7 linked regions of the Homo sapiens genome follow. The protein of the gene in region 2 interacts with the protein of the main gene of each other region in a pairwise test. Each region holds a gene or a part of one and is shown on either strand. Other genes may lie near its edges.

Region 1 (3,500 bases), on a different chromosome or scaffold from region 2:
GATTTCAAAATTATTAAAAAGAATAATTTTAAAATTAATATGTTCCCATAGAATTGGTCACTTACTGCTTGTCCATAATTCCTGTATGACACAGAATTAAAATGAGACAACTCTATTATTGTTAGAGTTACTGCAGTAATTGTAGTAATTATGCAGATGATGTTTATGATTAAAGTACTTATAATCTGAAAAGGAGACAGAGGGCAAATTTATTATATTCAGAATAAACATTTTGGTGTAATAGTTTGCATTGCTGAAAAAACTCATCTAGTTAAAACTTTGATCTAGTTTCTGAAGTCTTAGAAGTATTAAATATTAAGAAAATATTTTTCTGATTTATATGAAGCCCAGTTAATCTGGAGGAAACATTAACACCATCAGTCCATTAATCATTAATCTTCCATTTAGGCTAAAACATATTGTATTTTTTGGGGCCGGGCGCAGTGGCTCACGCCTGTAATCCCAGCACTTTGGGAGGCCGAGACGGGTGGATCACGAGGTCAGGAGATCGAGACCATCCTGGCTAACACGGTGAAACCCCATCTCTAGTAAAAATACAAAAAAATTAGCCGGGCTTGGTGGCGGGCACCTGTAGGCCCAGCTACTTGGGAGGCTGAGGCAGAATGGTGTAAACCCAGGAGGCAGAGCTTGCAGTGAGCCGAGATTGTGCCACTGCACTCCAGCCTGGGTGAGAGAGAGAGACTCCATCTCAAAAAAAAAAAAAAAAAAGTATTGTGTTTTTCAATGTTATAGGTCATTTGGAAGAAAGCATATAAGATATGATTTGGACAAAAGTGGTTCCACTGTAAGAAAAAAAAAAAAGTGGAAAATGACTGCTTGTAGAAATAGGAGTCAGTTGATAAAATTTTAATCCTGGGTTTTCATTATCTAAGGAAATCTATCAGTATCTTCAGACATCATTTTTTTATCTGTAAAATTATGAGGGCAGACTAATTTCTAAGGTACGTTTTAGCTCTAAGATTCTAAAGTGTTCTTCCCAATTCTATCCACCTATACCATGCATGGATCTTTAATCTGGACCAATTCTGTACTTTGTTACAGGACACAATCTTGTTCCCAAACTGGATAGTTCAGAAAATGAAGTTTTACAGTAGTATAATGTCTATATCTAAAGGCATTAGGTCCTATTAAAATTTTTTAATTATAAAGTTTACACAATGTTAAAAGGCAGAACATCAAACAAAACAAAAACTATATATACATTTAGAAACCTATACATAAAGTAATCATGATTTTAACCAATACAGTATATTTGTCTATATTAAATTATGTTCTTCTAGATTCATTCTTAATTCTTTCATTTACTTTACAGGTAGGGTAGATTCCTTCATTGTTTAGACGTTATATTTTCATTAAAACTTAATATTTAGCTTTGTGATAAGTGATTTCTAGAGATACCTCAAACATTTCAACTTACTCCAGATCGAGTCGGATACTTTGTTACTCTTATTAGGAAGACTCCTGCAATGATAAACTGGATATAAAAACATATTTATAAATACTCATTGATAATGCTTGCCAATTTAGAATGTACTTTTAATAACTCTCTTGTAAGTCAATTATTTTAAGAATGCTAATAGTAACAAAATATACAGAAGTTTTAGTAGATGGGTCAGGACAAATTTACATCATGTAGTAATACATTGAAAGGTAATAGTAGAGTCACTCATAACAGAGACACATAGGGGACAGTGGGCAGATTCACACTGTGATAATATGCCAGACAGCCTAAGCAGTCCTGACCGGGAACCAAGTTTGCTTTTATGTGTATGAGATACATCATATATAACTCATTTGATTATTGCTTTTAATGTTATCCTTCCTAATGAGATGATGACACTACTTATGATTACTATGTACATATCCAAATATGGAAAAAGTGGTTCAAGAATCTATTCCATATTGTGATGGTACAAAATATGCAGTCTCTTTTATGAGATTGTAGTCATTATTAAGGTAATGGCAGAAATTCATGCCTTTGCCTTTGTTTTTTAAAACAGAGGTTCCATTATTTCATGTCAGGAAGTCTGTCTACTTCCAAGAAGTATAAAACTATGCCATATTGTTTGAAGATGGGTTGCACAATTTCCTCAAAGTATTCCTTATTTGTTTTATTGATAAGACACTAAAGATCCAAGTCAAAGGCTATTTTTGTCATGCTATACACTATATGTAGGAAGCCCAAACCTGAAGCTTACAAACTTCCCATGGATAATTTTAAATCTATTTGTTCAGCACTTCATTCCACAACAAAAGCTGAGATTTCTAAGGAGGTACACAGTGAACGTAAGAACTAGCTCAGAATTTAAAGTGAAAATATCTTGTGAATTTTGAATTAGAGTGCTCTCTAATGAGATTATCTTTCGATTACTATGTGTTTTACAAAATGCCTTTCAAAGTTTAGGCTTAAGTGAGAAGTTTAGTATTAAATTACATTTAGTTGAAATTTTAGATAAGTTATCCTAGGAGTTTAATATACTATTTTTATAATATGAGTGGTCAAACACTAAGGAAAATGCATCATTTATTTGGATTTTGTTGGAAAATCCACAGTTTTTCTCCTCTTTTTTAAGGTAGTGCTTTGACACTTGTGACCCAGTGCATCATTTATCATTTATCACCTATGAACCAGTGCATTATTTATGAGCCATTCATCTTTTATGAACCATGTATCATTTATCTGGATTTTGTGCAAAAATTCAATATTTTTCTCCTATTTTTTCAAGGCAATCCATTGACACTTATGAATTAGTGTATGTATAAAAGTGGGAGACCTCCTAGAGATCATTGTTTCTTCTAGTGATTAATTGCTGTCTCAATGGGCAGCCATATTGTATCCTACAGCCCTCATTCCATCTGTTCGAAGTGTGGGATAAGTGGTTTCCTTGCTCATTATTGCTATCCAACCATTCTTTCTCCTCCACCTTTGAATCACATGTCAGTTTCTATAACTCACTATCCTTCATGGTTTAAGTAATCTATTGACCCCTTGGCCATTCCTCTTTTCGAATGAATTGAAATTTTGACTCTCTGATTCTCTCTCCAACATCACTTAATATTTGGTGATTTTTACACACACACACAAACACACACATACATATATATGTGTGTATATATCTATATATATACATCTATCTATCTATCTATCTATCTATCTATCTATCTATCTATCTGTCTGATCTTTTGATATGGTTTGGCTCTGTGTCCCCACCCAAATCTCATCTTGTAGCTTCCATAATTCCCATGTGTTGTGGGCGGGACCCAGTGGGAGATAATTGAATCATGGGAGCGGGTCCTTCCCATGCTGTTCTTGTGATAGTGAATAAGTCCTATGAGATCTGATGGTTTTAAAAATGGGAGTTTCCCTGCACAAGCCCTCTCTCTTTGCCTGCTGCCATTCATGTAAGATGTGACTTGCTCCTCCTTGCCTTCTGCCACAATTGTGAGGCCTTCCCAGCCATGAGAAACTGTAAGTCCAA
Region 2 (3,409 bases):
GTCTTTTTTGAGAGAGTGGCTAGGGACATTAGGTAAAGAGAAAGCAAAGATACTTTATTGAGGATTAATGTCATGGTAGTTGGAAGGAAAACTTTTAGAGAATTTTCTTGGGAATACTAACTTTGCATTTATATGAATGTATACAGCAGATCTGTTCAGAGTTTAAATAACCTTTGAACCCTTGTTCTCATTATATATGTGGTATATTTTACAGGGAAATTATATTTTCTTTCACACTTTACTTGTTATTTCTCTAGGAGAGGACTGCTGTTTTTTCTTAAAGTTCATAAAATAGATATATTTGTGTATATGAACCAAACTGAAGGCACTTCTAATGAGTGTTTCTACATTTTTAGGGAAGCAGGAATTGAGGAACAGATTCTCCAGCCATGGATTGTGGTGAATCTCGTGGTGGCTCTTCTGGTTGGATTATCTTGGCTATTTTTGTCTTATAGGCCAGGCATGGATCTTAGTGAAGGTATTAAAGAAAAAAAATAGCATAAGAATATCCTGAAATCTTCTATAATGGTTTTATAAACCTCCTTTTAATAGGTATAGCTTATAATATTCCAATAACAAAGACACATTTAAATTAAAATGATACAAGAAGAGAGAAAATAAAGTGGTGTAACAGAATGCCAAGAGAAGCAGGGAGGAGTGTCTAGGAGGGCTTGAGTCTGGAACTACTTAATGAGGGGCTTCTGTGGCCCTTGTGCATTTTCAGGAGGTATTTCTTCTCTTGGAACCCTTCAAGTAATGTAGAAAAAGTCTTTGCTCTTCACTTCTCTTAGTCTCCTGCTGATGAATTTTGAAATAAATCATGCTTTGTCTACATAGCCTCTCTGTCGGACACATACTCAAGTCAATTATTCTTCCTTCTCTATTTGGTACAAATTCTTAACCGTTCATTGGCTAACAGTGTTTAGTACTCTTTTAACATGCTCAGTGTGCAGTGATTCACTCATCTCTAGTCCCCAGACCCCTTTTGGAACACCTGAAGAAGAATCATCATATTAGCAAACTGCTAACCTTTTATGCTGCTTGAGGAACTGTTTAGTATTTGTATTGTAAATTGTGTTTCCTTGGCCAATGTTCAACAGTTTTACCCTTGAATATCTTTTTTTTTTTATTTTTTATTTTTGGAGATGGAGTCTCGCTGTGTCGCCCAGGTCAGAGTACAGTGGCTCGATCTGGGCTCACTGCAAGCTCCGCCTCCCGGGTTCATGTCATTCTCCTGCCTCAGCCTCCCGAGTAGCTGGAACTACAGGCGCCCGCCACCACGCCCGGCTAATTTTTTGTATTTTTAATAGAGACAGGGTTTCACCATGTTAGCCAGGACAGTCTCAATCTCCTGACCTCGTGATCCGCCCGCCTCGGCCTCCCAAAGTGCTGGGATTAAGGCGTGAGCCACCGCGCCTGGCCAAACATCTTTTATGGATATTTTCTGGGTCTTGGTTATTATTTTATTTTTTATTTGACCAACTATTTACAACCTATCTGCCTCAGAAGCCTTAGCATGCAGAATTTCGCCAACATCTATGCTAAGTAATAGTTTAAATGTAGAAAATGTCAGCTAATAACATTCTACATTGTGGCTGGGATCAAAACTGCATCTGGATTGTGCAGTATTCAGTCTAAATATTTCCAGAATCCTGTTCTTTTAAGGCCATGTTAGTCATACAACATGTGGATTTAAAAAGTAAGTATAAAATGAGATGATAATACCTGGCTTCTTGCGTTGTTTTGATGATTAAATGGGATGACCCATTTAAAATATCCTGGCACACATCTCTTGTTAGTTCCAAGTCCTTCCTCTGTATCTGTCCCCTATGTTTCAGATGATCTGATCACTGTAGAATTAGACATTTTAGCTGTTTAATGATCTTTGATTCTCTAAGTGACTTAAATTTCCAGGTAGGATTGTGTATATTGTCTCTATTACATTTTACTTTTAAGGGGTCTATAATTTAAAATTTAAATATTTTAAAATGTAAAACTTGTACATTTGTTATCAGCTTACCTTTTAAATCATATTTCACTGTCAAGAAATCTTACTTGAGGGCTTTCTATTAGTATATATTATGTCAATTTTTTAAAGGACTATTTATAAATAAGCTATACAACTCTGTTGGAGGTACTGGGAAACAATTTTAAGTATGATCTGTTCATTTTCTTCTCCAGAGTTAATGTTCTCCTCAGAGGTGGAAGAATATCCTGATAAAGAGAAAGAAATCAAAGCCTCTTCATAATACCAGCTCACCTTTGGAGGAATAATGACCCAGTATTTGTCCCATTTTTGTTTTTAAATGTATTTTTATAAGATGTATACATGTGTATTTGTAATAGATTTTTTGATTATATAATACTGAAACATCTCTCAATATTATGAAAAATGTTAAAATTGTGTTTGCTGTTTATGTCTAAACATTAATTTGTCTAGCATTATCATCTTAATGACAAAGGGAATAATGAACTAGAAACCAGCAAGTGAAAGTGTTTATTTCCTATTTTCTCAAAACAGTTGTATTTATAACTATTACCTTAAAAAGCACTGGTTTAGAAAAAGCCATAACTTAAATAGTGTTATAAAATATATATCAGGTTTAAACATAAATTTAGCGAATATGGTAGAAGGGAAAAAAGCCTTCATTTTTGACCTCCCCTTACTGAATAAATTGAAATATGAAGTTTGTCTTTTCTGAAACTGGCTTAGTGATTGAGTATCATGTAATAATTATAATATAATTTAGCTTGAAAGATGCTCTACATTATGACCAATAAAAAGGGAATGTATGTTTTGTTTGAAAAATTATATAACCTAAATTTTTTACCTAGAAGTAACTAAAAAGTTGCTTCTCATTATAATCTGTACTAGTGGTTCTCATATCTGGTTGTACATCAGGATCATAGAGGGAGATTTTAAAAATCTATGTAGCAAAAGAGGCTGAGCAGGGCAAGGCTCAGGGGAATAAAGGAGAGACCTGTGAGCTTGTGGGCTCCCAGTTGACATCTGCAGTACCCTTTCCTCTGTCCCTTTTTTCTGAGTGACAAGAAATAGGAGTAGAAATTCACCATCTCTGTTCTCCAGCTCTTTGTCAGAGAGGTTTCTGGTTTTCCAGGAAATCCCCCTCTTGAGATGGGTCCTGCACTGGGAAAGATCTCTTCAGAACTATATCCAATGGTACCTCAGCTGTTGTATATGAGACCCTAAAGCTCAAGTTGAGGAGAAGACTAGCTATGGGAAAAAATGTTTCAAAGGCTGTTGAGCACATCAATAAAACTATTGAGCCTGCCCTGATTAGCAAGCACCTGAATGTTATAGAACAGAAGAGGATTGACAAATTGATGATAGAGACAGTTGACCCTGACAATAGGTCTAAATTTGGAGTGAACATTATACTGGGAATCT
Region 3 (2,738 bases), on a different chromosome or scaffold from region 2:
GTGTCTCCTATTATGAGCCACTACAAATCTTTCTGAAAGAAGACAGAGTATAGAAACAAAACAGCTCCATGGTGAGAAGTAACACAGACCATTCACCTTCTACATCCAGTTGCATTTGCAGGACGGCTGTGCGATTAGATTAGCGTCTGCAGCCTGCCATCCAAGGCTTGCCTCTCTGGATGAGGGTCACTAGTCTTCTCAGGAATGAAGCCAAAGCCAGGCCCAAGCAGCCGAAAGGTAACTCTATCCCTAACAACAGTTACCTGGTCGGTAAAAAGGGCATTGGCCAAGAGGAAGCCTTCTCCCAAAATCATCACCTCAAATTCTCCAGTTTTATACCATAAACCTCAGAGTAAAAGTCTGCATTTTGTTTTCCACAGAATTTTTAGCAGCATGATGCCTTTTTGAAAATTTGCCTTTTCTTCCTATCAGTTTTCCAACCATATGTAGACAAATTCAGCTGTAATGGTTGAAATGAGAGAGCCAGTTAAGTGAGACACTCAAGTTGTCGCTGCATTTTAATAAACATAGCACACAATGTGTTGCTACACAAACACCATTCATAAACCTGAGTCACAGGTTTCAGATGGGAGCTGGGGACGTGTATAAATAGCCTGTGTATGTTAAACAGTAGAAAAGAAAAGAAGTTTGGGGAATAAGGTCAAAATCATTGTGCCCAATTTAAACATCATAAAAATCTCAGCCTTGTCATTATTTACAACCCCCAGCATAACTCCCACCCAAAAGAGAATGCCAAACGGAAAATTCTAAATAAGATGATGTCCTCACGTCGACCTAAACAGTACAAATGATGCAGCATCATAAAACAAAGTTATAATTATGTTGTCTCACTTCCTGGCTGCCGGATGCCCACGGTACAGAGCAGCCACTCCACAGGATTTTCTGAGCTCTGAGCTGTCTGGGGTTTTTGTAAGAACATAGCTTTGACTAGCATTGACCAATTGATTTGCATTTAAAGACTCTGTGATGGTTTGAGGTGGCAAAAGAAGAATACAACTTGTGTGGTGGAGAACTAACACCTTGATCATGTTGCAAACGTTTCAAAAATGCATTTTTCCTATATTCACCCCTCCTCAGCTGAAAATAGCCCAGCAGGCTCAAGGCTGGTTGCAGCTGAAGACAAATCCCACACACCCTCCAGCCCCTCCCATTTGAGAAAAAGGGCATGGCCATGGCTTGGAAGAAAGGCAACAAGAGTCTTGGGCAGCCAAGACATTCTCGAGGCTTTCAACAGGTCCCTGCAGACTTGGCCTTGACTCTGGGTCATTCTGTTCCTTAGCAAGCACCTTGTGGCCTTCCAGCCTCCGCTCCCAGGAACTCATTTGAACTTGCAAGGTGCTGTTCAATGAAGTGGATTCAGGAAGCAGCAATTCTCTCTCAGGAGAGGTCTAGTGTTTCGTCACCTACTCCCCCACACCACTGATGCTCAGAAGGGCTCTAGGACCCCGTGTGTGGAATTCGAATGCCAAAGATTGACAAACAGGGTGACACAGACACGCAGGGTTAACTCGGCTCCCAGCTGCTGCGTGATTCCAGCTCCCATTCAGTCTGACTGCCTGCCGGGTCTATTTCTCACGTATCCTCATTCTGGTCCCTCCTCCAGTCACCAGCAGAAATGCACCTCTCCGTCTCAGGCCTCTCCCATCTCAGTCTCTGATGATGTGCATGGTCTTTGCGTTAAGAGCTCACTAAAGTGTAGATCATGCTGAATGCAAAAAAAAAAAAAAAAAAAAAAAAAGAGAGGAAGGTGTTAGTAGAAGCCCACAGAGGACTCAGGCTGCCCCTCAGGAGAGGGACCTTCCAGAGGCCAGACCCCTTGGCTTCTCCCTCATTCCTGTCACTACAGCATCTCGCCAACTCCACTACTGTGCCCCTTCTACTTCCCACAACACTGGAATAAAAATTTTTTGGGAGAGCATATTGTATCCCTTGGATAAAAGATGTGAAAGCTCTAAGTGCCTATTATCATTCTCATCAGGATGATGATTATGGTTGTTTTCCTTTTTGTGCAATTGCAGGGCAGGTCTGGGGGTGGAGGTGGGGGTGCAGTGGATTCTTTATGCCACCAGCTGCCATGTGCTTGCATGATGGCTGTGTCCAGGGGCTCCCAGATGATGCTGGATAATACGGTAGTGCTGGGGGAAAGATCATCATCACTACTGCAAAGGCCAGCGTGGGAACATAAGCCCTCTGGGCACCAGAACTCAATGAATTCTTGATTGGGTAACTCCCTGGCCCTCTTATTTTTAATGGACTCCAGGAATTAAACATGCATTAAAAGTGTGTGACCTAAAGTATTGCCCCAATACTACTAAGAGTGGGGTGAAGGGGACATGTATCCCTGTGCGCTTAGTAAGGGCTTCAGGGTAATTTTGCAAGGCTGAGGAATGATCTGCACCAAAATATACCTCTTTGTCTATTTCGCAGAAAAAGAAACCAACTATCTTTTCACATTATAGTGAGAAAAAAAGATTCATCTAAGAAGTAAAACCAAAGGAAAGAAATGAAAAGGTTTGACTTCTAACCCTTTGCAGCTGTGGATGCCCAATGAGCTCCTCTGAGTAGCTCAAGTTCCATCTTCAGGAACCTCACACACCTCATGTACACAGAGAACCACTGGTCAGACCTGGAGCAAGAGGGACTTACTCTACTTGGGGAAGCTGAGGGCCAGATGAGGAGTGACAGCAGGGCGAGAAGCCACATTCTAACTCCAAAGC
Region 4 (3,500 bases), on a different chromosome or scaffold from region 2:
TCACCTTCCAAGGAGCTAGGCCTGCAGGTACACACCACCATGCCTGGCTAATTTTGTATTTTTTGTAGCGACAGGGTCTCCCATGTTGCCCAGACTAGTCTCGAACTCCTGGGCTCATGTCCATCCACCTGCCTCGGCCTCCCAAAGTGCTGGGATTACAGGCTTGAGCCACCACGCCTGGCCCCTCAGTCTTTTATATTCTATTTATAAAGGTGTCAAGTCGGACCTGGACCTCAGCGAGCCTTGCCCCTTGCTAGAACTCAGGGCTGGGACTGTATCCCGTATCCAAAGATGAGGCCACAGGCCCTTTGCACAGGCGCCCTATCTGGTGACCAAATCTTCAGCTGTAGCCACACCCAGCTGTCCTGTCTCTGGGTCTCCCCTCACAGGAGGCTCCTCCCTACTACACAGAGGCCCAGTCTTGCAGCTCAGTTTTCAAGCAACTGTCCCCACCACTGCCCTTTCTGGGTCCTGGGCCCGGACCCCCAACTCCGAAAGTCCGGCTCCAAGTTAGAAACCGAAGCTGTCTCAAGGTTGAAGCCCCGCCTTCCTGGAGATGCCCTGTTTAAGGACTCAGTTGTAGAGCCACAGGTCCCGCTCCTCTCCTGGAGTCACTGGCTTTCCCGCCCCACCTAGAGCCGTGGACGGGGCACCCAGACCAGAGGCACTGCGCCATTGATCTGTCCTCTGCCTCGCCCCAAACCAGAGGCCCACCCCATGCCCATCTAGCGGCCCGGTCCCGTCTCCGAAACAGAGGCCCCATCTGGCGGTCCCAAGCCTCCGACCTTCTACTGCCCCACTCCACATCATGGCTCGCGCCTCCCACTGGGACTCATGTGGCCTCCGGGTCACTAGGGAGGGGCGCTCTGGGGGCCGGATGGCCTGGTCAGGCGGCAGCGCCACCGCCGGGACCATCGGACGGGGTGCAGGCGGTGACACGCTCGCGGGCCGTGGCTTCGCGGGCGCGGCTGAAGCTGCTGGGGTCTGGGCGGCCGCAGGGCTTGCGGCAGAGCTGGCGGAAGCAGCGCTTGAAGTTCTCGTCGAGGAAAGCGTAGAGCACGGGGTTGAGGCTGCTATTGGCGTAGCCCAGCGCGATGCACAGGTGCAGCGCAGCCACCACCAGCGGGTCGCGCCGGTCGATGTCCACCAGCGTCCAGACGATGACGAAGATGTGGATGGGCGCCCAACACACCACGAAGGCGCCCACAACCACCAGCACCATGCGCGTGATGCGCCGCAGGCTGCGGTCCTTCTCCTTGGAGCCCGACAGCAGGCGCACACTGCGCAGGCGCAGCAGCATGAGGCCATAGCACACGGTGATGATGAGGATGGGCACCACGAAGGCGAAGAGGAACACGCAGATCTTGGTCACCGTGTCCCAGTACCAGCTGGGGCTGGGGAACTGGAGCATGCACACCACTGCCCCGTCTGGGCCGCGGAAACAAGGAAAGACAGACGGGGTGAGGGGCCTGTGTGCCTAAGGGGCCCCCACCTGCTTGCCCACCCTTTCAAGGCTTGGGCAAGTCCCACCACCTCCTCCCAGCCTTTGTTCAAGGGGATTCTTCTGTCTGGAGTGTCCTCCTCGGCTTCGGTACTTGGTGAACTCTTAGTTATCCGTAAAGACCTAGCAGGATTGGCCCTCATCAGGGAGGTCCCCTATGTTCTCTCCTGGCCCCTTTTCAGCCTTTGTGTCCATGGGTGGCCGTAATGAAATCGTTTAGCTCAGCCCACTGAATGCCAGTCATTGCAGTAACTCAAAGCACCTTGACCCATTTCCAAACTAGCTCCATTGGGGACAGGACTGCTAAGACAGACAACATGAGCTAGGAGCAGGACTCAGGCCCTACTACATAGTGTAAGGAAATTACTAAACCTCTTGGAGCTTCAGTGGAGTGGGGCTAATGACAGTACCCACATCTCCAGGATTGTCGTAAGGATTAAATAGGCTAAGGCGGACAGGTGCGGTAGTTCACGCCTGTAATCCCAGCACTTTGGGAGGCCGAGGAGGGCAGATCATGAGGTCAGGAAATCGAGACCCTCCTGGCTAACACGGTAAAACCCCATCTCTACTAAAAAAAAAATACAAAAAAATTAGCCGGGCATGGTGGTAGGTGCCCATAGTCCCAGCTCCTCGGGAGGCTGAGGCAGGAGAATGGTGTGAACCCAGGAGGTGGAGTTTGCAGTGAGCCGAGATCGTGCCACTGGACTCCAGCCTGGGCGACAGAGCGAGACTCCGTCTCAAAAAAAAAAAAAAAAGAAAAGAAAAGAAAAGGCTAAGGTACCTAAAGCATTTAGCATAGTGGGGTTCAAGCTCTTGGCGTACCCACAGGGAAAGAGGGGCATATATGTGGGGGAGTCCAGGACTCAAGGATAGGGTCAGGCTCCCTAGAGGGAAGCAGGTCTCAGCTTAATCACAAGAACCTCCTGGCCAGGCATGGGGCTCATGCCTGTAATCCCAGCACTTTGGGAGGCTGAGGCAGGTGGACTGCTTGAGTCCAGGAGCTGGAGACCAGCCTGGGCAACATGGCAAAACCCCATCTCTACAAAAAAAACAAACATTAGCTGGGTATGGTGGTGCATATCTGCAGTCCCAGCTACTTGGGGGGCTGAGGTGGGAGGATCGCTTAAGCCCTGGAGGTTGAGGCTGCAGTAAGCTGGGATAGTGCCGCTGCACTCCAGCCTGGGTGACAGAGCGAGACCCTGTCTCAAAACAACAACAAAAACAAAACAAAACTTCCTTCCTTCTGGGAGGAAAGCAGACTTCAGCTTAACTCAAGGACTTCCTTCTTGAGATAGGAAGGGTGCCTAGGATGAAATGAGCTCCCCATTCCTGGAGTGTGGGCTTGGGCTGGATGAACACCTTAGGGGGTGTTGTGGGATTCTGATACAGCCTTGAGGCTGGCCCAGGGGACTCCCAGGATCTCTTGGAATGCTAGGATTTAAGAAGCCACACGATGGACTTGAGGCTAAGAAGTGAGAAGGGGCTGGGGATCCACAGACAGAGTGGGTCCACAGGACATCAGGCTGGCAGGACCCCTAGAAGTAACTGAATCCAAGACCTTCATTGTATAGGAACCAGAACAGCACTTGTTTAAGGTCACACAGCAAGTGGCCCACAGGTTCAATAAGTGCTGATGGCACACACTGGGAAAGTGTGTGTGTGAGGGATTGTGGAGTGAGGAGGCCCATCTGGTCCAGCCCCAGGAGGGATGCAGTTAATGGCCCGTAAGCTGAAGGCTGACAGTGAGGAATGGGGCTCTGCTGTGAGTCAAGGCCAATGGCTCACAGGCTATAAAAGGGCACCAGGGACTCTGCCCTTGTGAGGGTCAAAGGTAACCAAGAAGCTTGTTCTCTCCCACCCACAGCATCAACCCTCTGCAAACTTCCACAAAAGGGACTAGAAGGAGTAACAGACCTGGGGGCAGGAACCCTAGGTTGCAGGCCAAATTCCACAAAATGCCTGGCTGTGTGACCCTAAGTAAACCACCTGACCTCTCTGA
Region 5 (3,500 bases), about 95 Mb from region 2:
CAGCCTCATGCCCAAGGACTTCTGCTGAGCTGAGATCTGGGCTTCTGAGCCTGCCTACAGTGGCTTCACCCTATTCCGAGAGAACTCTGGAACATAGGCCACTCTTCAAGGACACAGAACAACTAATGGATCCGCTTAAAATGAAGACAACAAAGATTACTTATTTGCAAAGAGGGAGCAACACTCCCGGAATGTCACTTCCAGACCAGTTATGCCCTAACAACGCCTACTGTGAGAGTGTACAGGACATGATTGTTTTATATCTGGACTTGAGGCTGACGCTGTATTTGACTCACATTTGTTTTACTGCTCCTCGTACAGAATCAAGCACATATTAGGGGCTAAACACATATTTGTCAAATGAATGAGCCTAAAGGGCCAAGCTGCTTGCTGACTGGTCTAGCAGTGGAATTAGCCTGGGAAGAAGGGGGGTTCCGGGAGCAAAGGGATCTGAAACTGCTGAGGGAGAGCCCAGCTATGGCAACACAAGAGCCTGGGTATCTCTGGCAAGACAGGGTGAGAGTCTGGGGCAGGTGGGGAAATGAATGTGATCCAGCGAGGAAGGGGAATTCTGAGGAGAGCCAATGCAGGCCCATCTGGTGCAGAACCTACACCACTCTGCAGGAGGGAAACGTATTTGAACCCTGCCATGGCCCCATCAATCAAAAAAGATTAGAATTGGTATTTTACTTGAAAACTAGGAAGAAATAGTGATGGCTAATGTTGTGTGCCATCTTGGCTAGGCCACAGTGCCCAGCTGGTTGGTCAAACACTAGTCCAGATGTTGCTGGGAAGGTGTTTTTAAGATGTGATTAACAGTTAAATCACTAGACTTTGAGAAAAGCAGACGACTCTCAAAATGCAGGTGCGCTTCCTCAAGCCAGGTGAATGCTTTAAGAACAAAGACTGAAGTTTCCTAAAAAAGAAACAATTCTGCCTCAAGACAGCAACACAGAAACTCTGCCTGAGTTTCCCATCTGCTGGGCTGCACTACCTATTTCAGACTTGCCAGCCTTCACGATCATGAGAGTCAAGTCCTTAAAATAAATCTGTCTCTGTATAGACACATATCCTCCTGGTGTGAGTCTCTGGAGAACCCTGACTGATACAGGAGCTGGGAAACATGTGCTCCAGGGCTCTTGACAGGGATGTGAAGGCAGAGCCTGGCAGGGAGGGAGGAAGCCCAGGTGTTGCATGTTATTTACCATCTTGGAGAAGGTCCCTGGTAGGTGCACTGGCAGTGCCCCAAAGGTTGGATTTGCGCCAACAGTTGGGAGGCCGGAACTTATTCTCCCATGGGAAAGATGTTCCCAACAGCAGCTGGGCTCTTCTCAGAGCTCACAGTAACCAATATTATCTTCATGCACCCTGCTCTTTGGAGCTGACGCCCTGATTGGGCAGCTTCTGCTTTCTTGCCTCCTCCTCTTGTTCCCTTCCCATATTCCCACTGCAGGATGGGTTCACCGGGCTTTCAGGGGCCACAGCCTGGGGGCATATCCATGCAGACTGCGGTTTCTATGGGATACGAAGTCTGAACAGTGAGAAGGACGCCGGGGGCAAAGGGCGGCGCTTTCCTTCCACTGCCTACTGGCATCAGCTATGGGGAGGACCCTTCCTGCTCCCTAGCATTCCCCAAATCCCTGCTCTAAGAGTCTCCCGAAGAGTACTTCTGCTGTGACCCCAGGCAGACTCATTCTGTGCCAGCAATGGGAAAGCACCTGAAGAATCTCCAGCTAATATTAGGAACACCTGGTGCGGAGACCCCAGCTTGCCCCGTCAGAGATCCAGAGGCGCGCTCAGAAAGAACCGGCCCCCAGGGACACACTGGCTCAAGACAGGGCGACCTGGTCCCCCCGCTGAGACCTACCTATTTCCTCGCCCAAGGAAGAGTTGAGGATTGCGCCTGCAGACATGACGACAGCGCAGCTGCGCAGGCCGCGGGGGTGCAGCTGGCTCAGGGGCACGGCGGGCACCAGGCGCCGCCAGCCCAGCGCAGAAAAGGGCGCCTCGGTGCCGTCCAGCGTCCGCACGCGCGCGCGGCTCCGCAGCTGGCACAGCAGCTGTGCCCTGCTCAGCCCGGCCTCCCGCTTCCCGCGGAAGCGCACCCCGTGCTTGTTGGCGGTCAGGTAATCCTTCATCGCCTTCTGCAGGCGCGGGTTCAGCATTTTGGAAGAGACGTTCCCCTTCCAGAGCCGGTACAGGAAGGCCCTGGACATGGAGGAGTACAGCCTGTCGCCGTCGTCGCCCTCCTCCAACACGTGGCTCCTTCTCTGCCTCCGGTGCCTCTTCTTCACCCGCCTCCTCTGGACCTGTGCAGCCGGAAAAGCCCCCTCCCGTGGGCCTGGCTCCCCGGGGGAAGGGAATCCCAATGTCCCCTGAGTGTGGCTGTGCCACCCTGGCTGACCAGCAGCAAAAAAGTAGTCGTCATCCTCCGGGTAGAAAGCACTTTGAGATTTTCTCCCCACCTGGGATGAAAAAAACTCTTTATGTTCAAACCCATCTTGGGACTGGGCCCATTTCTGCAGGTCTCCAGGCCCCGCATGAAAGGAACCGGCTGGGTGGGCGCGGGGCAGCGCCTGGCGTGCGTCCAGGCCCCCAGGCGGGGAGGGCTCATGTGCGGCGCCCATGATGGCCCGCTGCTTCCCCTGCACCGGCAGGAGCCTCCTGGTCTCCAGGAAGGAGAGGGAGCTGGGTACAGGCTCAGCGGGGTTGCTGTCGGTGAAGTAGATGAAAATCAGCAAAAAGAGGAGCCCCCAAGCGAATATTCCGAAAAGCATTCGTTGTCTCCATTGCTTCAAGTGTGGTTTCATGGCAGGTCTCTGCGGTCAGCACCTTGTGTCTTAATGCAGATGGGTGGCAGAATGAACCTGAAAAACAGCCAGATGGCAGTTAGCCAACATGGGGCATCTGCTCAGATGCTGCTGGGGACATTCTATCTTGAGCAGTGTTTCTGTAGGTGGTGGGGTGGGGTTGTAGAAGGGGCACTAGAAACCAGAATCATCCAGGAGTTTTAGCTAAATCCAGGTGTCATATCTGTCCCCCTCCCCGCCCCCCACCTCCCACCAACCTCTGCAAAACAAGGGATCTCACCATCTCAGGTGAGTCTTTGGAGAGAGGCGATGGATGGGTGTATATTTGCAAAATCCTCCCCATGTGACTCAGGGACACGTCTGCCTTCCCACTTTGATAGACAGTAGTGCCCCTGCCCACAAGTTCCCCCTACTTCTGAGATGATAAAATTCCAATTTGATAAAGCAAAGCCAGAGAGGTAAGCATGGTTTGCCCCTTTTGTCTGCCTATCAGACCACCGAAAGCTCAGAGCTCATAGATTTTACAGCAGCGCTGCTGTGCACTTCTAAGGAGTGACAACCCTATCTGATTCTTCCTGTTCTCCCCATTCTGGAAGGCTGCCTAGAACATACCAGAAGTCCACCGATGGCACTGAATAAAGCAATGCTTCAGTGACTGTGTCTGTGGGTGAATGTTATTTCAGGGTGCCT
Region 6 (3,500 bases), on a different chromosome or scaffold from region 2:
CGGATTACCTAAGGTCAGGAGTTTCAGACCAGCCTGGCCAACATGGTGAAACCCCGTCTCTACTAAAAATACAAAAATTAGCCAGGTGTGGTGACAGGCGCCTGTAATCCCAGCTACTCAGGAGGCTGAGGCAGGAGAATCGCTTGAACCTAGGAGGTAGAGGTTGCAGTGAGCCAAGATCACACCACTGCACTCCAGCCAGGGGGACAAGAGCGAGACATTGTCTCAAAAGAAACAAGAAAATAGATCAACAGTGGTTTTCTTTGGATGGTGGCCTAATAGGTGACTTGTCAATTTCTTCATGCTTTTCTATATTTTTTAAAAAAAAGTGTTTCTTTTTTTTTTTTTTGAGACGGAGTCTCGCTCTGTCGCCCAGGCTCAAGTGCAGTGGCGTGATCTTGGCTCACTGCAAGCTCCGCCTCCTGGGTTCACGCCATTCTCCTGCCTCAGCCTCCAGAGTAGCTGGGACTACAGGCAATCGCCACCACGCCCGGCTAATTTTTTGTATTTTTAGTAGAGACGGGGTTTCACTGTGTTAGCGAGGATGGTCTCAATCTCCTGACCTCGTGATCCGCCCACCTCGGCCTCCCAAAGTGTTGGGATTACAGGCATGAGCCACTGCGCCCGGCCAAAGTGTTTCTTTTATAACAGGAAAAATAATTATAAACTTATTCTTAAAAAGAAAAATTCTGTTCAACCCTATATCCCTTGAGGTAAAGGGACCAGATACCCGTGGGAGGGCCTCCTTCCACTGCCAAGAAGAGCGGGAGGTGGCTCACTTCCTGCTCCAGAACCTTCTCGGTGTCCATGAAAGGCAGAAGTCTGGACGCGGGCAGCTTCTCATGGCTGAGGTGTCATGCTGGTGTGTACCTGTAGTCCTGCCCAAAAAGAGGAGGGCAGTTCCAGCTCCGTTTCCCTTGAGCAAACACTGGCTAAGCTGCCAGGCCAGCCACCAATCACCTTCCCAGTTCTGAGAGACCCAGCAGAGGCAAATCTGAGTGGAAGCATCCACATTAGGCCCCTTCTTGGAGTGGGGCCCGGGCTCACAGGCAGGCCTGAAGCTCCATGAGGGCAGAGGCTGCATTTTCATCGTAGTTTCCCCAGCACTGGGCCTGAATGTAACAGGTTCCCAAAAGACACAGGTTGGAGGGACATTTGTAATGATTACAGACATGAGCCACAGGAGTCACAGGAGGAGAAAAACAATTATGGTTATTAAGAGAACTGGTACCAGAAAAGTCAACCCATCCGTCAGGCTGCTTTTCACTTAGTGAAAGGGTCACTTGATCACCTATGATACAGGAGGTGCTGGGCTGGACCTCCACCCGCTTCTGCCTAATTAAGCCCTGCTTCTTTGGGACCCACAGAAAGCAGAGGACTGAAGCAGTGAAAGCCCGTGCCCCAGACTCAAAGGCACGGGCATGCGGCCCCATGGCCTGAGGACGGCTCCCACAGGCCAAGGAACTTTCACAGGACACCCAGCCCTTTCGTCTGCTTCAGAGGACACTTTCCTATTCTGCGCACTGGTAACTCAGCAGCCCTTCTATCTGGGGAGCAGGAACACGGCGCACCAAGTGTGGGAGTCGAGAGGGTGGATTCAAGTTCCCTCTCGGCTGCCTACTGGCTTTGTGTCCTAGGGCAAAACACCCGGCCCCTCTGAGCCAGTTTCCCATGTTGTCAAACGGGGCCAGAGGCCCTGGCTCTCCCAGAGGACTGCAGTGAAGATGGGAACAGTCGCCAAGCACTGCCCCTCTGCCTAAGACACATGTGGCTGTTGAAATTTAAATTAATTAAAATTAGACATCTTAAAAAATTCAGTTCCTGGCCGGGCACAGTGGCTCACGCCTGTAATCCCAGCACTTTGGGAGGCCAGGGCGGGTGGATTCCTTGAGCCCACAAATTTTAAGACCAGCCTAGACAACATGGTGAAAACTCTGCCTCTACAAAAAATACAAAAATGAGCTGGGCGTGGTGGTACATGCCTGTGGTCCCAGCTACTCGGGAGGCTGGGGTGGGAGAATGGTTTGAGCCAGGGAGACGGAGGTTGCAGAGATCCGAGATCATACCACTGCACTCCAGCCTGGGTGACAGAGCCAGACCTGTCTCATAAAATAAATAAATAAATGAAACCTCAGTTCCTCAGAGCCACACGTGGCTAATGGCTGCCCTAATGGACTGCAGGGACACGCCAGGAGTCTGTCATGCCAGAAACTCCTACTGGACAGCCCTGCTCTGAAGAACTGTTATGACTACTACATGGCTGTCAGCTTTTCCTGAGAACTGTGCCCATAAAGTGGCTGCTGGCACCAGGGCGGAACACCGTGGCAGTCAGGAGGTTCCCGGGTGTGCTCGGTCATGGAGTGCTGCCCAACTCCACCCCCCGCACCTCGCTCATTGAAGAACAGGTGCACACCGACAAGCCGGGGCAGAGGAGCCACCTCCCCACCTCCGTGGACCCAGGCGCAGCCCTCCCCTCTTCAGAAAGGGGAGCCTTCCCTGGAACATGACCTAAAGGACTGAACCACTGAGACACAAATTAATGCACTTGGAATCCAGGCTGCTTGAGTGAACCAAGGAAAACAGAAATTCTTGAAAACTTGAAGGCACATCAATACTGAAGAGGATGAACCCCATCCTTACCTACGAATCCAACTTCTGCGGCCAGAACATGTGGCTTTGCCTTTGTTAAAGAGCTGAGCAGAATCCCACAACCAGTGGCTAAACCCCCACACACTTGGGTGCAGATCCCGTATCTGCTCATCTCATCCCAGCCAGAAGGAAACAAAAACTCCCGCCACACACAAAAGCAAGCATGGAGTCTTTCAAGAGAGATTAAATACTCCCAAAGCCTGAGAGTCTAAAAGGGAAGGATCAGATCAGAAAGGGAAGCTGTCACCCCGGGACCATGACCCAACCTGCCCCCGGGGCCTGTGCTCCATCTGCTCACTGGATGAACGTGTAAGGGCCACCTGGGACCAGGCACACCTGAGTTCACAAAGAAGAGGACAGGTCCTGGGGAATAAAGCATGGCAAGGAAAGCCATGAAAGTCAGCCCAGGGAACTGGCTGCCTATAAAACGCTGGAGCAGATGGCCGCGCAAGCCAGGGGAGGGGCAGGCCACAACAAATAACTTCGCGCTAAACCTGAACTTTTAGCCCCGTGCATCTGGCCCTCTGCACACCCCAGGTTGCCTCATATCATGCTCAGAAGCAGATCAAGTACATCTTCACGTGATTATAAAAACAGGAACTCAAGAGCACACAGCTATACTCACATTCCAACAATCACGGAGGGCTCTGGGAGGTTCAGGGGCCCTGAGACAGTGAAGCCGAGCAGCCCAAGTAAGACAGGCAGGGCTGTCTGTGAGCTGGTCCGGGCTGGCACACGGTGGCAGAACACAGATACCTGCACTGTGCTTTCCTAGATGGGCAAGTGTGTCTCAAAGACGCCGACAGGACAAGTGGCAATCTGTTTGATGTGCTCGTTGCCAGTGTGCTGAA
Region 7 (3,500 bases), on a different chromosome or scaffold from region 2:
CACCCACCTCCCTATCAGAGTCCAAATCCTCTTTACAGAGTCCCTGCAATTACTTGCACACCTCCAGGGACAAGCAGCCAGCCACATCCTAAGAGGACTGAGGTGTGGGTTTCATCGTCTCGTTTGTGCCAAGAACAGGCGCCATGGACCACAAATCTGTATTCCTCCAGAGTTCTGAGCTCAGGCCCTGGTCCATGCTCAGCAACTACTGGCTGATTAAAACAGTCACAACGACCAGTTACTCCTTTTGTAGTGGCAAACATTAGCTTAGAGGCACTGCAAAGACTGTCTTCTGTCGATACTGCTGTTGCTTCCCTAATTTTCTGAGATCCCTTCCTGCCAGTTCCAAGGATGATCCATACTGGCTGGTAGAGTACCCCAGGACAGGGAGGCAAGCTCTTGGGAGAAATCTCATTTTCTAGTGGCAGGCAAGACAGGTTGGGTAGGCCTTCCCTAGGTCAGCTAAGTCTTCCTGTCCCCTCTACTCGGTATCTTCCACCCCCTCACTGAACACCAACTATGTGCAATGCTAGGTCTTTACCTGCACTATCTCATCTAATCCACGCATCTGCTTTACAGATGAGGATACTGAGGCTTAGAGGGATTAGGTGCTTAGCCAAAGCCACCCGTGTAGTAAGGAGCTGTGGCAACAATTCCTTTTGTCAGCCTATTTCCCACCCACTGCTTCTTCTGGTAAGACATGATATTTTCTTAGCCACAGGAAGGGCCAGTGATCTAGACTGGCCCAGTGGGACTTTTCCAACTGCAGGTGAGGAAAAGAGCTCCTTCCTTTATAGTGCTGGGTTCTAAGGGTGCAAGCCCAGGACTGCCTACAGCCAAGGTTCCACCCTCAAGGGACATCCAGGTAAGAATGAAGTAGCCTCGCAGAGAGGATCAGGGAAAGGGGGAGAAAAAGTGCTGACAGTGTTCATGTTGCCAGTTCATGATCTGGCCATATGAGCCAACACATTCCTTTTTGCTAAGGATGGTGCAGTTCACACTGGCTTTCTGTCACTTGCAACCCAGTCGTCCTGAATAACACACACAATTCAAACCTGGGTTTATGTTAATTCAAGACCTGTGCTCTTAATAGCTTGCTATTCTGTTTTTTTGTTTTGTTTTTTGGAGACAGGGTCACCTAGGCTGGAGTACAGTGGTGTGATCACAGCTCACTGCAGCCTTGGCCTCCCAGGCTCAAGCATTCCTTCCACCTCAGTCTCCTGAGTAACTGGGACCACAGGTGCATGCCACTATGCCCAGCTAATTTTATTTTATTATTATTATTATTATTATTATTATTTTTTGTAGAGATGAGGTCTCACTATGTTGCCCAGGCTGGCCTCAAATTCCTGGGCTCAATAATCAACCCACATCAGCCATCCATAGTGCTGGGATTACAGCTGTGAGCCACCATGTCTGGCCAACAGCTTGCTATTCTGTTTTTGATTACTAGGCTTATCAGGAGATCAGGTTAGAAAGGGATCTCCCTCCCCCCTCCCCCAACCCTCCCCCTCTCCCTCGCTTCTTCCTTCTCCCTCTGTTGCTGAGGCTGGACTGTACTGCCGTGATCTCAGCTCCCTGCAACCTCCCTGCCTCGGGCTCCCGTGATTCTCCTGCCTCGGCCTGCCGAGTGCCTGGGATCGCAGGCACACGCCGCCACACCTGACTGGTTTTTGTATTTTTGGTGGAGACGGGGTTTCGCCGTGTTGACCAGGCTGGTCTCCAGCTCTTGACCTCGAGTGATCTGCCCGCCTCGGCCTCCCGAGGTGCTGGGATTGCAGACGGAGTCTCGCTCACTCAATGCTCAATGTTGCCCAGGCTGGAGTGCAGTGGCGTGATCTCGGCTCGCTACAACCTCCACCTCCCAGCCGCCTGCCTTGGCCTCCAAAAGTGCTAAGATTACAGGCTCTGCCCGGCCGCCACCCCATCTAGGAAGTGAGGAGCGTCTCTGCCTGGCCGCCCATCGTCTGGGATGTGAGGAGCCCCTCTGCCCGGCCACCCCATCTGGGAGGTGAGAAGCGCCTCTGCCCAGCTGCCCATCGTCTGGGATGTGAGGAGCGCCTCTGCCCGGCCGCCCCGTCTGGGAAGTGAGGAGCGCCTCTGCCCAGCTGCCCCGTCTAGGAAGTGAGGAGCGCCTCTGCCTGGCTGCCCATCGTCTGGGATGTGAGGAGCGCCTCTGCCCGGCCGCCCCGTCTGGGAAGTGAGGAGCGCCTCTGCCCAGCTGCCCCGTCTGGGAAGTGAGGAGCCCCTCTGCCCGGCTGCCCTGTCTGGGAGGTGAGAAGCGCCTCTGCCCGGCTGCCCATCGTCTGGGATGTGAGGAGCGCCTCTGCCCGGCCACCCCGTCTGGGAAGTAAGGAGCCCCTCTGCCCGGCCGCCCCGTCTGGGATGTGAGGAGCCCTTCTGCCCGGCCGCCCCGTCTGGGAGGTGAGGAGCCCCTCTGCCCGGCCGCCCCATCTGGGAGGTGAGGAGCACCTCTGCCCAGCCGCCCCGTCTGGGAGGTTAGGAGCCCTTCTGCCTGGCCGCCCCATCTGGGAAGTGAGGAGCACCTCTGCCTGGCCGCCACCCCGTCTAGGAAGTGAGGAGCGCCTCTGCCTGGCTGCCCATCGTCTGTCTGGGAGGTGAGAAGCGCCTCTGCCCGGCCGCCCCGTCTGGGAGGTGAGGAGCGTCTCTGCCCGGCTGCCCATCGTCTGGGATGTGAGGAGCGCCTCTGCCCGGCCGCCCCGTCTGGGAGGTGAGGAGCGCCTCTGCCCGGCCGCCCCGTCTGGGAGGTGTGGAGCACCTCTGCCTGGCCGCCCCGTCTGGGAAGTGAGGAGCGCCTCTGCCCAGCCGCCCCGTCTGGGAAGTGAGAAGTGCCTCTGCCCGGCCGCCCGGTCTGGGAGGTGTACCCAACAGCTCCGAAGAGACAGCGACCATTGAGAATGGGCCATGATGACGATGGCAGTTTTGTCAAAAAGAAAAGGGGGAAATGTGGGGAAAAGAAAGAGAGATCAGATTGTTACTGTGTCTGTGTAGAAAGAAGTAGACATAGGAGACTCCATTTTGTTCTGTACTAAGAAAAATTCTTCTGCCTTGGGATGCTGTTAGTCTATAACCTTACCCCCAACCCCGTGCTCTCTGAAACATGTGCTGTGTCCACTCAGGGTTAAATGGATTAAGGGTGGTGCAAGATGTGCTTTGTTAAACAGATGCTTGAAGGCAGCATGCTCGTTAAGAGTCATCACCACTCCCTAATCTCAAGTACCCAGGGACATAAACACTGAGGAAGGCTGCAGGGTCCTCTGCCTAGGAAAACCAGAGACCTTTGTTCACGTGTTTATCTGCTGACCTTCTCTCCACTATTATCCTATGACCCTGCCACATCCCCCTCTCTGAGAAACACCCAAGAATGATCAATAAATACTGAAAAAAAAAAAGAAAAGGATCAGCGTGGCCTAGGGCAATACACAAAGCTTGCATGAGGGAAGGGAGCCTCAAAGCACGGATGGATGAATCTAACTAGG

What was found.
Region 1: the proteins of TMEM237 (region 2) and MS4A13 interact in binary tests that used the Homo sapiens proteins (3 or more experiments, as listed by UniProt).
Region 3: the proteins of TMEM237 (region 2) and CNIH3 interact in binary tests that used the Homo sapiens proteins (3 or more experiments, as listed by UniProt).
Region 4: the proteins of TMEM237 (region 2) and OPRD1 interact in binary tests that used the Homo sapiens proteins (3 or more experiments, as listed by UniProt).
Region 5: the proteins of TMEM237 (region 2) and ST6GAL2 interact in binary tests that used the Homo sapiens proteins (3 or more experiments, as listed by UniProt).
Region 6: the proteins of TMEM237 (region 2) and TMEM11 interact in binary tests that used the Homo sapiens proteins (3 or more experiments, as listed by UniProt).
Region 7: the proteins of TMEM237 (region 2) and CLN6 interact in binary tests that used the Homo sapiens proteins (3 or more experiments, as listed by UniProt).

Annotation. Positions count from the first base shown.
Region 1 is NC_000011.10:60,521,892-60,525,391, reverse strand, and holds part of MS4A13 (membrane-spanning 4-domains subfamily A member 13), read right to left. Parts: intron 1,496-3,500; coding exon 1,439-1,495; intron 186-1,438; coding exon 66-185; intron 1-65. UniProt on the Homo sapiens protein: May be involved in signal transduction as a component of a multimeric receptor complex.
Region 2 is NC_000002.12:201,623,095-201,626,503, reverse strand, and holds part of TMEM237 (transmembrane protein 237), read left to right. Parts: intron 1-356; coding exon 357-478; intron 479-2,181; coding exon 2,182-2,249; 3' UTR 2,250-3,409. UniProt on the Homo sapiens protein: Component of the transition zone in primary cilia. Required for ciliogenesis.
Region 3 is NC_000001.11:224,738,317-224,741,054, reverse strand, and holds the end of CNIH3 (protein cornichon homolog 3), read right to left. Parts: intron 1,727-2,738; coding exon 1,699-1,726; 3' UTR 501-1,698; downstream 1-500. UniProt on the Homo sapiens protein: Regulates the trafficking and gating properties of AMPA-selective glutamate receptors (AMPARs).
Region 4 is NC_000001.11:28,860,670-28,864,169, reverse strand, and holds part of OPRD1 (delta-type opioid receptor), read right to left. Parts: intron 1,429-3,500; coding exon 887-1,428; 3' UTR 1-886. UniProt on the Homo sapiens protein: G-protein coupled receptor that functions as a receptor for endogenous enkephalins and for a subset of other opioids.
Region 5 is NC_000002.12:106,841,168-106,844,667, forward strand, and holds part of ST6GAL2 (beta-galactoside alpha-2,6-sialyltransferase 2), read right to left. Parts: exon of another isoform or gene 3,091-3,500; intron 2,868-3,090; 5' UTR 2,811-2,867; coding exon 1,868-2,810; intron 1-1,867. UniProt on the Homo sapiens protein: Transfers sialic acid from the donor of substrate CMP-sialic acid to galactose containing acceptor substrates.
Region 6 is NC_000017.11:21,207,662-21,211,161, forward strand, and holds part of TMEM11 (transmembrane protein 11, mitochondrial), read right to left. Parts: exon of another isoform or gene 3,275-3,500; intron 1-3,274. UniProt on the Homo sapiens protein: Plays a role in mitochondrial morphogenesis.
Region 7 is NC_000015.10:68,219,729-68,223,228, forward strand, and holds part of CLN6 (ceroid-lipofuscinosis neuronal protein 6), read right to left. Parts: intron 1-3,500.